Linked DNA regions of Homo sapiens: region 1 is linked to region 2. Evidence: fine-mapped expression QTL. A gene starts in region 2. The other region holds a variant in brackets. All regions are shown on one strand. Distances are from middle to middle.

What was found. PIP is the estimated chance that this variant, and not a neighbour inherited with it, causes the effect.
Region 1: its variant is the best candidate, but not a certain one, in a credible set for the expression of KCNG4 in prefrontal cortex (GTEx, PIP 0.51).

What each region holds. Positions count from the first base shown.
Region 1 is chr16:84,197,149-84,202,500 of GRCh38, forward strand. ADAD2 (adenosine deaminase domain containing 2) reads left to right here. Exons shown (of 10, transcript NM_001145400.2): 10 at 1-18. Among named protein-coding and RNA genes, the nearest start is that of ADAD2-AS1, 2.8 kb to the left of the region's middle. The variant C/T (reference allele first, on the strand shown) is at 2,842.
Region 2 is chr16:84,237,109-84,242,498 of GRCh38, forward strand. It overlaps KCNG4 (potassium voltage-gated channel modifier subfamily G member 4), which reads right to left and starts at 2,904. Exons shown (of 3, transcript NM_172347.3): 1 at 2,562-2,904; 2 at 1-417. The coding sequence starts at 377.

The sequences.
Region 1 (5,352 bases), 40 kb before region 2:
AAAGAAGTATTTCTGGTTCCTGTGTGTGTAGTTGGCTGTGTGTGTGTGTGTGTGTGTGTTTATGTGTTGGGGTGGCCAGGGGCCCTTTGTTTGCGGAGAGAGCCCCTCACTCCTCCTTTGGGAGGCCCTGTGTTCACTGGGTTCCCACCTGGATCCTCTCACTGAGCCACTGAATTGTCACCCCCGCCCCTGTTCACAGGGCTGGAGGCAGGTTTAGGAGGGGAGGTGACCTCCCCTGGTTCCTCCTGTTTTCCAGCCTGTGTGCTGGAGGAGACCACGGAGGCCACGGGTTGCGGGTGTTGTAAAGGGTGGGAGGGCAGGCTGCTTGGATGTGTGAGCATTTTGTCCTCTGGCCGCTATTGGGGCTCCAAATCCTTGCCTTTCTGGGCCCCCAGGATGTGTGGGAGGGCAGAGAACACCCTTCCCTGGTCAGAGCTTTAGCTGCCCTGGCCCTCGAGGGTGCTGTGGGGTCTGGGCAGCCCCATGTTGAAGGGCGTGGGGAGGGCATGAGCAGCATCAGTGCTTTCCCTGGGCCGCCCGGCTGTTGGACCTGGGCGAGGCATTGGACCGCTAGAGCCTGCGTCTTCCACCATGGAGAGGGACAGTGCTCCTGCCCTGTGTGGGCTCGGCAGTTCTCTCTCCGTTTCCCCCAGGGTAGCATAGTAAGGCCACATGGCACTCAGGCACTCTGTTGACTCTGGATGGGGAGAGAAGATGGTAACACTAAAAGCATGTGTGCGTGCACACTCGCACACACACCTGGAACCTCACCAGCATGGGCACTATAGCCGTTGAGCCAGGAGCACAACAGCTTTGAAGTCCAGGGACCTGGGGCCAGGGACAGTAGAGGACCGTGGCCAGCCCTGTGACCCCCACCCTGTGACTCCCTCCCTGCATCCCTAGCAGTTGCAGGGTTCAGAACCACAGGCTACTCTCCCATGTGGGGTGTCTCTGGGAGGGATTAGCATCTAATTATGGGGCTGAGTAAGAAGATGGCGCTCCCCAGTGCAGGCAGGCACCATCCAATCCACTGAGGGCCTGCAAACAACAAGCAAGCAGAGGAAGGTGAATTCGCTCTCTCCCCTTGAGCTGGGACATCACAACTCCTGGGTCTCTGGCCTTCAGACTTGGACCAGGACTCATAACATTGGTTCTCCCAGTTCTCAGGCCTTCGAGTTTGGACTAGAACGCCACCACGTGGGCCCCCAGCACTCACACAGCAAATGGTGGGACTGCTTCGACTCCGTATCGTGTGGGTCAATGCCTCGCAATACATCTCTATATATCCTGTTGGTTCTGTTTCTCTGGAGAACCCTGACCGATGCAGACAGCTCACTCCAGAGCTGTCACTCAGGGCCAGGCCTAATGTTGAAGTCGTGCGATTGGGTCCTCTCCCTCCAACCCCCTTTTGTCTCTGCCACTGGGTGTGTGTGGCCGTGGCCACGGGCAGCCACTTAACCTCCGTGCTTGTAGGTTGACTCATCTAGAGAAATAATCAGAGGGCTGGTCCCAGGGGTGTGTTCTTGGCCAGCCTGCCCATCTGCAGGCCTGGGCTTTCCGTCTGCTTTCGCTGGGCTCATCCTGTCTCCTTTCCCCACAGTGACGATGAAATGGGAGAATCTGAGGGAGGTGGGGTAGAGGAAACAGCACCAGTGGACAGACTAGACAACTCCAGCACGCCTGAAGCATGGTGTGTCTGTTCTGTTTTAACCTCCCACAGCTTGCCATGATAGATGCGATCATTGCCTCAGTGTACAGGTGAGGAAACTGGCAAGGTGCAGTTAGGTAACTTCTAGAACACCCAGCACCTGAGGTGGGCTGGAGCTGTGGTGATGTGCAGGCCGCCAGGCTTCCAAGCCCTTCGATTGCAGCCACCACCCAGGGCTGCAGCTGGATTTCCTTACGTGACCTTGGATGAAACTCTGAACCTCTCTGAGCCCCAGTTTGCTCATTTATAAAACAAGGACTAGGTGATATCCTTCCTAAGGTTCCCTCGCGTTCTCTGCTCTGCTCTTTCCCGACTGCTGCAGGAGGTCAGGAGGATGCCCAGTGCTATTACAGGGAAGAGCTGCAGGCTGGCAGCCTGCGGGGAGGCGAGTCTGGAGCTGGGGGCATCAGGCTGGGAAAACGGCAGGCGGGAGGGCCGGAGAGGGGAGCTGAGAGGCAGGAGGAGCTGCAATTCACATGTGCAAAGGACAGGAGGTGAGCCCTTGCTGAGGGAGGAGGACTACAGAGAGAGGCGTTTGCACCAGCAGGAAGGGTCCGCGGGGCCGGGAAAGCCAGGAAAGCACCGATTTCTTGTTTGAGAAGACAAGGATTTTTACCTTTAGTTTTTGGTTTTTTAAAAAAACAAAAAAACAGAAAACACTTCTCAGGCCAACCTTGAAATAATGATTTCTCGTGGCTCTTTTTTTTCAGGGATTAAGAGAGGGGGGTTTAAGAACACCCAAGCCTATTAGCCTGTGTATTACACATTGTTTTCCCCAGGAAATAGTTTACATTGATTTACTTTTTGTACTGTAGTAGTAACTACAACCAAATCTGGAAATATACCAGCCATTTCCAATTTCAGTTTGATGCAATGAGCCTTTTGGTGTTCATTAATCACATAATCACTGGATAAACAAGTTTTTCAAATCGACATTAACTCTGTTGTGTTCCGCCAAATCAGTAATATTTGTCCCCACGTTGCATACATCTGCTTGTCCAGTGCTTTCCTCCCAAGACAGTCTTTTCGTGACATCAGAGTCGCTCAGTTCTTTTGACTCAGCTTGTTCATTACTGCGGGGTGATGATGAAAGCTACTTCTGAAATGCGGATCTGTTAATGTCTAGTTGGCCG[C/T]ATCTCCTCTGGGTGTAAGTTTTACCAACAGTAGCATATTTGAATTGGGAAGTGATGTAATCTCACTTGGCACAAGTGCTGCCTCCTCCGAGTGCCATCCCGTCACTTCCTCCTGCAGCTCAGGGCACCCTCTGTTCCGTGCTGACCCATGTGTTGTCTTCACTCTGGGACAGAGTGTGCCGAGTGGAAGTGTGGACCTGGGAAGTCTCTGGGAAGCCAAGGCGCCACTCTGCCTCCCCAGTCCTCAGCTTCCCCACTTGCCAACTGAGACAGGATCACAGACATGCAGCCTGCAGGGCCATGGTGAGATGAGGGGGGAAGCGTGCCTGGCACTGTTCTTGGCTCTCTCGGCAGCCCTCAGCAGTGACTGTCATCAGGCCTATCTGCCATCAGCTCCCAGCATGGGGCCTTGTGCATTTATCTCCATCTCCTCCTGGGGGGGTCTCCCACATAGAAGGTGCCCAACAAACAAGCACTGAATGGAAAATTAGTTAGAGGATCACTTGCAGGAGTGTAACCTACCCCTATATAGAGAGAGACCAGAAACCCCGTCCTCAAAACCCTGTAGAAGACACTTTGAAAATTTCCACTGTGCTCTGAGCCCTTTTCCTATGCCCTGGAGCAGTCAGTGAGAATCTAGAGAAAAGTTAGTGAGAGTCTAGAGGAAAGTAAATTGTTACCTTGCCTCATGGTTTAGTGGTGAAATTACCTTTTTAAAAATTATAGTTTTAAAAGATACATATATATTTGAGATTTATCTATCTATCTGTCGCCCAGGCTGGGGTACAATGGAACGATCTCGTCTCATTGCAATCTCAGCCTCCCGGGTTCAAGTGATTCTCCTACTTCAGCCTCCTGAGTAGCTGGGACTACAGGTGCCCGCCACCATATCTGACTAATTTTTGTATTTTTAGTAGAGATGGGTTTTCACCATGTAGGCCAGGCTGTTCTCAAGCTCCTGGCCTCAAGTGATCCACCCGCCTCGGCCTCCCAAAGTGCTGGGAATACAGGCATACGCCACCGCGCCCGACCTAAAAGATATTTTTAAAATCGATTTTCCTGGGTATCCAGAGGCAGCAGGATGAAGTACCCTTCCCTCTGTGCCATGCACAAACATTAACTCAAATTGGATCACACACCTAACACAAGAGCCAAAACTGCGAAACTCTCAGAAGAAAACATAATAGTAAAATTTTATGACCTTGAGTTAGGCAAAACTTTCTTAGATATGTCATCAAAAGCATCATGATAAATGAAAAAATAGAGAAATTGGGACTCCATCGAAATAAAACCCTTTGTGTTTCAAAGGGTACCATCAACAAAGTGAAAAGAAAACTCACAGAATGGGAGGATATACTTGCAAATCATATATCTGATAAGGGGCATATACCAACAATATATAAATAACTCTTACAGCTCAGTAATAAATTCAGCCCAATGAATGGGCAAAGGATATGAATGGACATTTCTCTAAAGAAGATACTGAGGCCAGGCATGGTGGCTCGGGTTTGTAACCCCAGCACTTTGGGAGGCCAAGGCAGGTGGATCACCTGAGGCCAGGAGTTCGAGACCAGCCTGGCCAACTTGGTGAAACCCCATCTCTACTAAAGATACAAGAAAAAATTAGCCTGGCATGGTGGCAGGTGCCTGTAATCCCAGCTACTTGGGAGGCTGAGGCAGGAGAATCGCTTGAACCTGGGAGGCAGAGGTTGCAGAGACCCGAGATCGTGCCACTGCACTCTAGCCTGGGTGACAAGAGCAACATTCCATCTCAAAAACAAATAATATTAACAAAGACGATACTCAAATGGCAATAAAACACATGCAAAGACGCTCAGCACCATTAGCCATCAGGGAAATGCACATCACCATGCTAATGACAGCCGGGGGTGTTGGTGTGCACATGTGGTCCCAGCTACATGAGAGGCTGAGACAGGAGGATCACTTGAGCCCCGGGGGTCAAGGCTGCGGTGAGCTATGATTCTGTCACCCTGTACTCCAGCCTGGGTGACAAAGTGACCTCCTGTCTTAAATAAAATGTGGTATCACTTTACCCCCACTAGGATGGCTATAATAAAAAAGGCAGATAATAGCAAGTGTTGGTAAAGATATGGAGAAATTACAATCTTCGTGCACTGCTAGTGGGAATGGAAAATGCGGCAGCCTCTGCAGAACACTTAGGCAGGTTTTTTTTTTTTTTTTTTTTGAGACGGAGTCTCGCTGTTGCCCAGGTTGGAGTGCAGTGGCGTGATCTCGGCTCATTGCAGGCTCCGCCCCCTGGGGTTTACGCCATTCTCCTGCCTCAGCCTCCCGAGTAGCTGGGACTACAGGCGCCTGCCACCTCACCCGGCTAATTTTTTGTATTTTTAGTAGAGACGCGGTTTCACCGTGTTAGCCAGGATGGTCTCGATCTCCTGACCTCGTGATCCGCCCGCCTCGGCCTCCCAGAGTGCTGGGATTACAGGCGTGAGCCACCGTGCCCGGCCGACTTAGGCAGTTTTTCAAATGATC
Region 2 (5,390 bases):
AAGCTCACGATCACCCCGAAGGCGCTGGGGCTCCTGTCGAAGAAGAACTCCTGGCTGTCCTCGTCGTAATCATCGCAGAGCTGCACGATCTCCTCGTAGCTCCGACAGAGCCTGAGTTTGCTCAGGCGGCTCAGCGGGAACCGGTCCAGTGTGCTCCAGGGGAGGAGATACCTCCTGCCCCCCACGTTGATCAGGATCTCCTTCTTCAGGTCCACTGGGGAGGCGTCCAGGGCACCCACCTTCCGCACCCTCCGGTAGTAAAGGCCCTTGATGGACGGCGTCTCCATGGGGCTGGACAGGAGCTGACTCCAAGGGCTGTGGGAACCATAGTGGTGGTGTCTGGGATGCAGGCCCCCGTCTCTGGAAGGCATGGGCATTGCTGAAGACCACCAGGTAGGAAGCGCTGGGTTTACCAGTCTGACACCCAAGGGACAAAGAGCAAGCAAAAGGAAGGGAAATCAGTCTTGGGGCAAAGAGTCCTGGATGTCACGACTGCAGATGTTCTTACGTGTGCTTTCCTGTGACTGCATCTGCATGGCTTGTTCTTTTAACCTTTAGTTCAACACATATTTATTGAGCACCTACTATGTGCTTGGGATACATCAGTGAAAAAAACCCTTCCCTGGTGGAACCTCTACCGACATCTCAGAAGGATGTCTCCAGAATAGACGTTGCACGGATGGGGGCTTGAGTAATTCAGTCCTGAGCTGGACAAGTCGGAGCGGTGCCACTTCTGGGCTCTGTGGTCTCAGGTATGTGGCTTAACCTCTCTGATCTCAGCATCATTCATTCAAATGACAAGACTCATACTAATCTTGCAAGGTACAGGTAGTAAAAATAGAGCTTAAGAATGTAGGCTCTCAGGTTCACTGGCAGGGACCGATCCCTTACAGACTGCCAGCACAGGTGGGTTACTCAGTGTCTCTGAGTCCTTTGCTTTATCTGTATGACTGGGGCAGTCTGAGTGCCCACATCGTAGGGCATGGCAAGGGTTATATGCAGTAATATACAAGAAAGTGTGTATTAATAATACTTCTAGATGCTTCTGACATGCCTGGCTTCCCCTAACTCACCTCAACAACCTCATGAAGTAGACATAAGAGCTCCACTTTATAGATAAGGAGGCTGACGCACGGAAGGTTTGCGTGTCTTGCCTACTGTTTAGCAAGCACCTGACATCAGGAAGGTTCAGCGAGGGTCTGTTATTAAAGGTTCGAGTAGCCCAGGAATGTGACTATGCTTAGCGAGCATCCAAGCATCTAGGTCTCAGGAGGAACTCCACCAGTCTCGCTTAATCCCTCTTGGTCGCTTCCCCATTTGGGGAGGCCTTTGCTAAGGGGACGGAGGAGCATTGCGTACTTGCAATCACAGTACTCCTCCATGTTCGTTGCGTGCTTGCCTCAGCCATCCTTGCTGTGTGACCTCCAGCCAGTTACTCCCCCTCTCTGGGCCCGCAGGCTTTTATGTGCAGAATGAAGGGGCCTCCAGCCGCAGTGGTTCATGCCTGTAATCCCAGCACTTTGCGAGGCAGAGGCAGGCAGATCATCTGAGGTCAGGAGTTCGAGACCAGCCTGGCCAATGAAACCCTGTATCTACTAAAAATACAAAAATTAGCTAGGCAAGGTGGCATGTACCTGTAGTCCCAGCTACTCGGGAGGCTGAGGCAGGAGAATCGCTTGAACCCGGGAGGCGGAGGCTGCAGTAAGCCGAGATTGCGCCATTGCACTCCAGCCTGGACAACAGAGCGAGACTCCATCTCAAAAAGAAAAAAACAAAAAAAAATGACGGGGCCTCTAATGCTGTCTCCATTTCAGACCTATATGAGGTGCTTGACTTAGTGTGAGTGTTTTAGATTTAGCCACTTCACATATTTAAAAAGTCCTTTTCATAATATTTCTCACCTTCAGATCCTGCAACCATTTCTTATGCTATTCATTCTAGCCAAAGCCATTTCCAAAGCATCTATAAGCTTACATTTTCAGATGCACTCCACTCCAATCAAGAGAAAAACTCGGCAGTGGAACGGAAATCAAAGTTCCTCTCAATTTCAGAGCCGGTTGGATTCCGGTGGATAGTGGAGAGTGAATCGTAACCTATTTCACACTCTTGCTCCCTACACAACATTCTGTTGCTCTGAATGCATTACTTTGCTCACAGGGAATGGCCAGAGGAGGATGAGGAGCCTGCAGAGAGAAGAGTATTTTGAAATCTGGGGAGCCCTTTGCAAGCTTCCTCATTTTCCCAGTGCAAAAACCAAGACCCAGCGAGCGGAAGTAACTTGTCCAAGGTCACACAGCAAATCCGAATCCAACCCAGCACTCTGTCCCCCAGCCTGGGGCTCCTTCCAGAACCTGAAAACTGCCCTTTCTGCATTCACTGAATAAACCCAATTTTGCCATCTACGGCTCTCCAAACAGCTGGCAAACAGCTCCTTCTGGAGCACGGGAAAGGAATTCACTCAAACCAGCACTTTTGCCAAGGATGTCTAACAGCGTCAACTTCCCCCTGGCCCCCGCCCACCCTACAGCAAGCAGTAACTCTTCCCCTCCAGTTTAACTCACCTTCTTGTCTCAGGGAGCCAGTTTCCAGCTGTTTCTCTGCCAGGCAAGGGGAGCCCATCTCTTGGTGCCCAGGGAAGGGACAGGTTTCTGGTGGAGATGAAGGGGAAGAAAAAAATCCCCAAAACAGCAGTTTCTAGCAGAGTCAGTTTCCAATCTTTCTTCCCGTGCCTCCTCCAGAAACCAGAAGTTCATTCATTCTGCATCTCTCTCTCCAGCAGCTGCAGGAGAGCCCTGGGGGATTGAGGTGGGATTTTTTTTTTTTTTTAAAGGACCCAGAAGTCCCTTTCCTTATGAGAGATGAGGGTCTGGGGGTTCTTGCTGGGAGGGAGCCAGGGCAGCTGTCCTGGTTGAGCAGCGGACTCTGCACTTCAAGTCCCACGGGGACAGCCAGTGTGGGGGGGTGTGGAATGGGAAGGGCTTAGAAATAATCTCTCCATCAGCCAGCAGCAGGAAGAAGCAGCAGCCGCTGCCACTCTGCCAACCGCCTAGGAGGCAAGGGGAGCTGTCCTCCCTCCTCTGGCATGGAGGAGCACAACTCGGGAGGAGCAGAGGGCAACTTGGGGCCGGAGGCATCTGCAGCTACCTGTCCCAGGCACCCCAGAGTCTCTCGGGGTATGCTGATGATGGTGACAGGCTCAAGTTGAAGCTGCAGGAGGAACTTTTTGCTGCTTTTAAGCAGCCCAGGCCTGGGACAGGTTCAGACAGAAGCCCAGGCTCTGAGCGCTGGGTGGGAGTCAGGGGGGCTGTGTTACAGAACAGCAATAGGAAGAGCTCCGAGCTTGGAATTCACACACATGCCTGGATCCTGGCTCCTATGTGAAAGGCTGGGTGACCTTGGCCAGGTGAGTTAGTGCTTCTGAGCCTCAATTGTCTTGTCTCTAAAACATGGGAATGAGAGAGGGTTCAGGGAAGGTCAGAACCATAAGTGCAAGCTCCTGTGCTGGTTGGATGGTTGGGTGGGTGAAAAGGAAGAGGCATCAGTCCAGGGCCTGGGTGTGAACTTGGACTCTGCACTGCCTGGCTGTGTGTTCTTGGTCAGTCACTTCCCCTCTCTGGGCCTTGGGTTTCTCAGTCAAATGAGGACAGTGAAACCAGCGATGGCTGCAATTGTAAAACCAGCATCTTGTAGTTGCTCACTACACGTTGACTGTTCTTCACTTTCTTAAGAGGTTTTGCAGCCCAGGCTCTTGGCTTCTGAATGTGTTATCTTCACTGCATTTGATAGTTGAGGCCCTGAGAAGAGGCTTGCTCAAGGTCATCTTGCTGGTTAGAACCATCACTTAGGCCGGGTGTGGTGGCTCACAGCTGTCATCCCAGAACTTTGGAGGCGGAGGCGGGCAGATCACAAGGTCAGGAGTTTGAGACCAGCCTGGCCAACGTACTGAAACCCTGTCTCTACTAAAAATACAAAAATTAGCTGGGCATGGTGGCGGGTGCCTGTAATCCCAGCTACTCGGGAGGCTGAGGCAGGAGAATTGCTTGAATCCGGGAGGCGGAGGTTGCAGTGAGCTGAGGTCGCGCCACTACACTCCAGCCTGGGTGACAAAGTGAGACTCTGTCTCAAAAAAAAAAAAAAAAAAAAAGAACCATCACTTAACAGACGCTTGAGTTTTGATGGGAGGATCCAGGAGTGAGGGAGATTAGAGGGTGAGCCTTCCACAGCTGCCTGCAAGGGGATGACAGGTGCTGCTGACCTAGGTGGGCTCTCTGTGGCCTTGGCAATGGGAACGAATCCAAGCAGAGAAGAGAACTGACTGAATGGAGGTCCATCTGGTATTGCGGTTTTCAAATGGTATTGCTTGAAGCCTTAGGGCTCTGCAGAAATGATTGAGGGGCCTGGCCTGGGGCAGTGACAACGGGGAGGATGAACCCCTGGACCTGCTACCTCAGCCATGGCAGCTGCACTCTGATCTGTCTCCATAAGACTGTAAGTGTAACCCCAATAAAGGCTGTGGCCCAGCATGGTCCAGTGTCCACACAGAGCCACTCAAAGAGATCCCAGAGCACCTGCCAGTAATGGAGAAGTTTCCTTCCCTCCTTCCACTGACTCCCGTGTTCCTCAGACCCCACAGCTGCTCCAATGGTGCTCTTAGAAGAGTCTTCAGAATTGTCTTTCCAGCTCATGATTCCTCCTCCTACCCCAGCTGTCTCCCCACCTCTCTCAGCTGTTTCTTATTTGTCTGGATTTAGCCTTTCTGGTTAAATCTCCCCTAACTTATCCCCATTCCTCTCAGTTCTCTCTGGATCCTGAGTATATGGGTTCAAATCAAGAATTTACCAATTCCCTGCTGGGTGACCTTGAGCAAATTTCTTAACCTCTCTGTGCCTTAAATTTTTTTGTCTGTGACCTGAAGATGACAGCATCTATCGATTTGTTGTGAGTTTTGAACAAATCAATTTACATTGATAAGGCTCTTAGAAGACTGCCTGTCACAAAAGTGAGTCCTATCTATTCAAATGCTTGCTATTATTATGATTATCTTTTTTTTTTTTTTTTTTTTTTTTGAGATGGAGTCTCGCTCTGTTGCCCAGGCTGGAGTGAAGTGGCAAGATCTTGGTTCACTGGAGCCTCCGTCTCCGGGTTCGAGCAATTCTTGATCCTCAGCCTCCTGAGTAGCTGGGATTACAGGCACCTGCCACCATACCCAGCTAATTTTTGTTTTTTTAGTAAAGACAGGGTTTCCCCATGTTGGCCAGGCTGGTCTTGATCTCCTGGCTTCAAGTGATCCACCTGCCTCTGCCTCCCAAAGTGCTGGGATTACAGGTGTGAGCTACCGTGCCCGGCTATGATTACCATCTTAGCAATTTTTTTTCCCCAAATTACCCAAG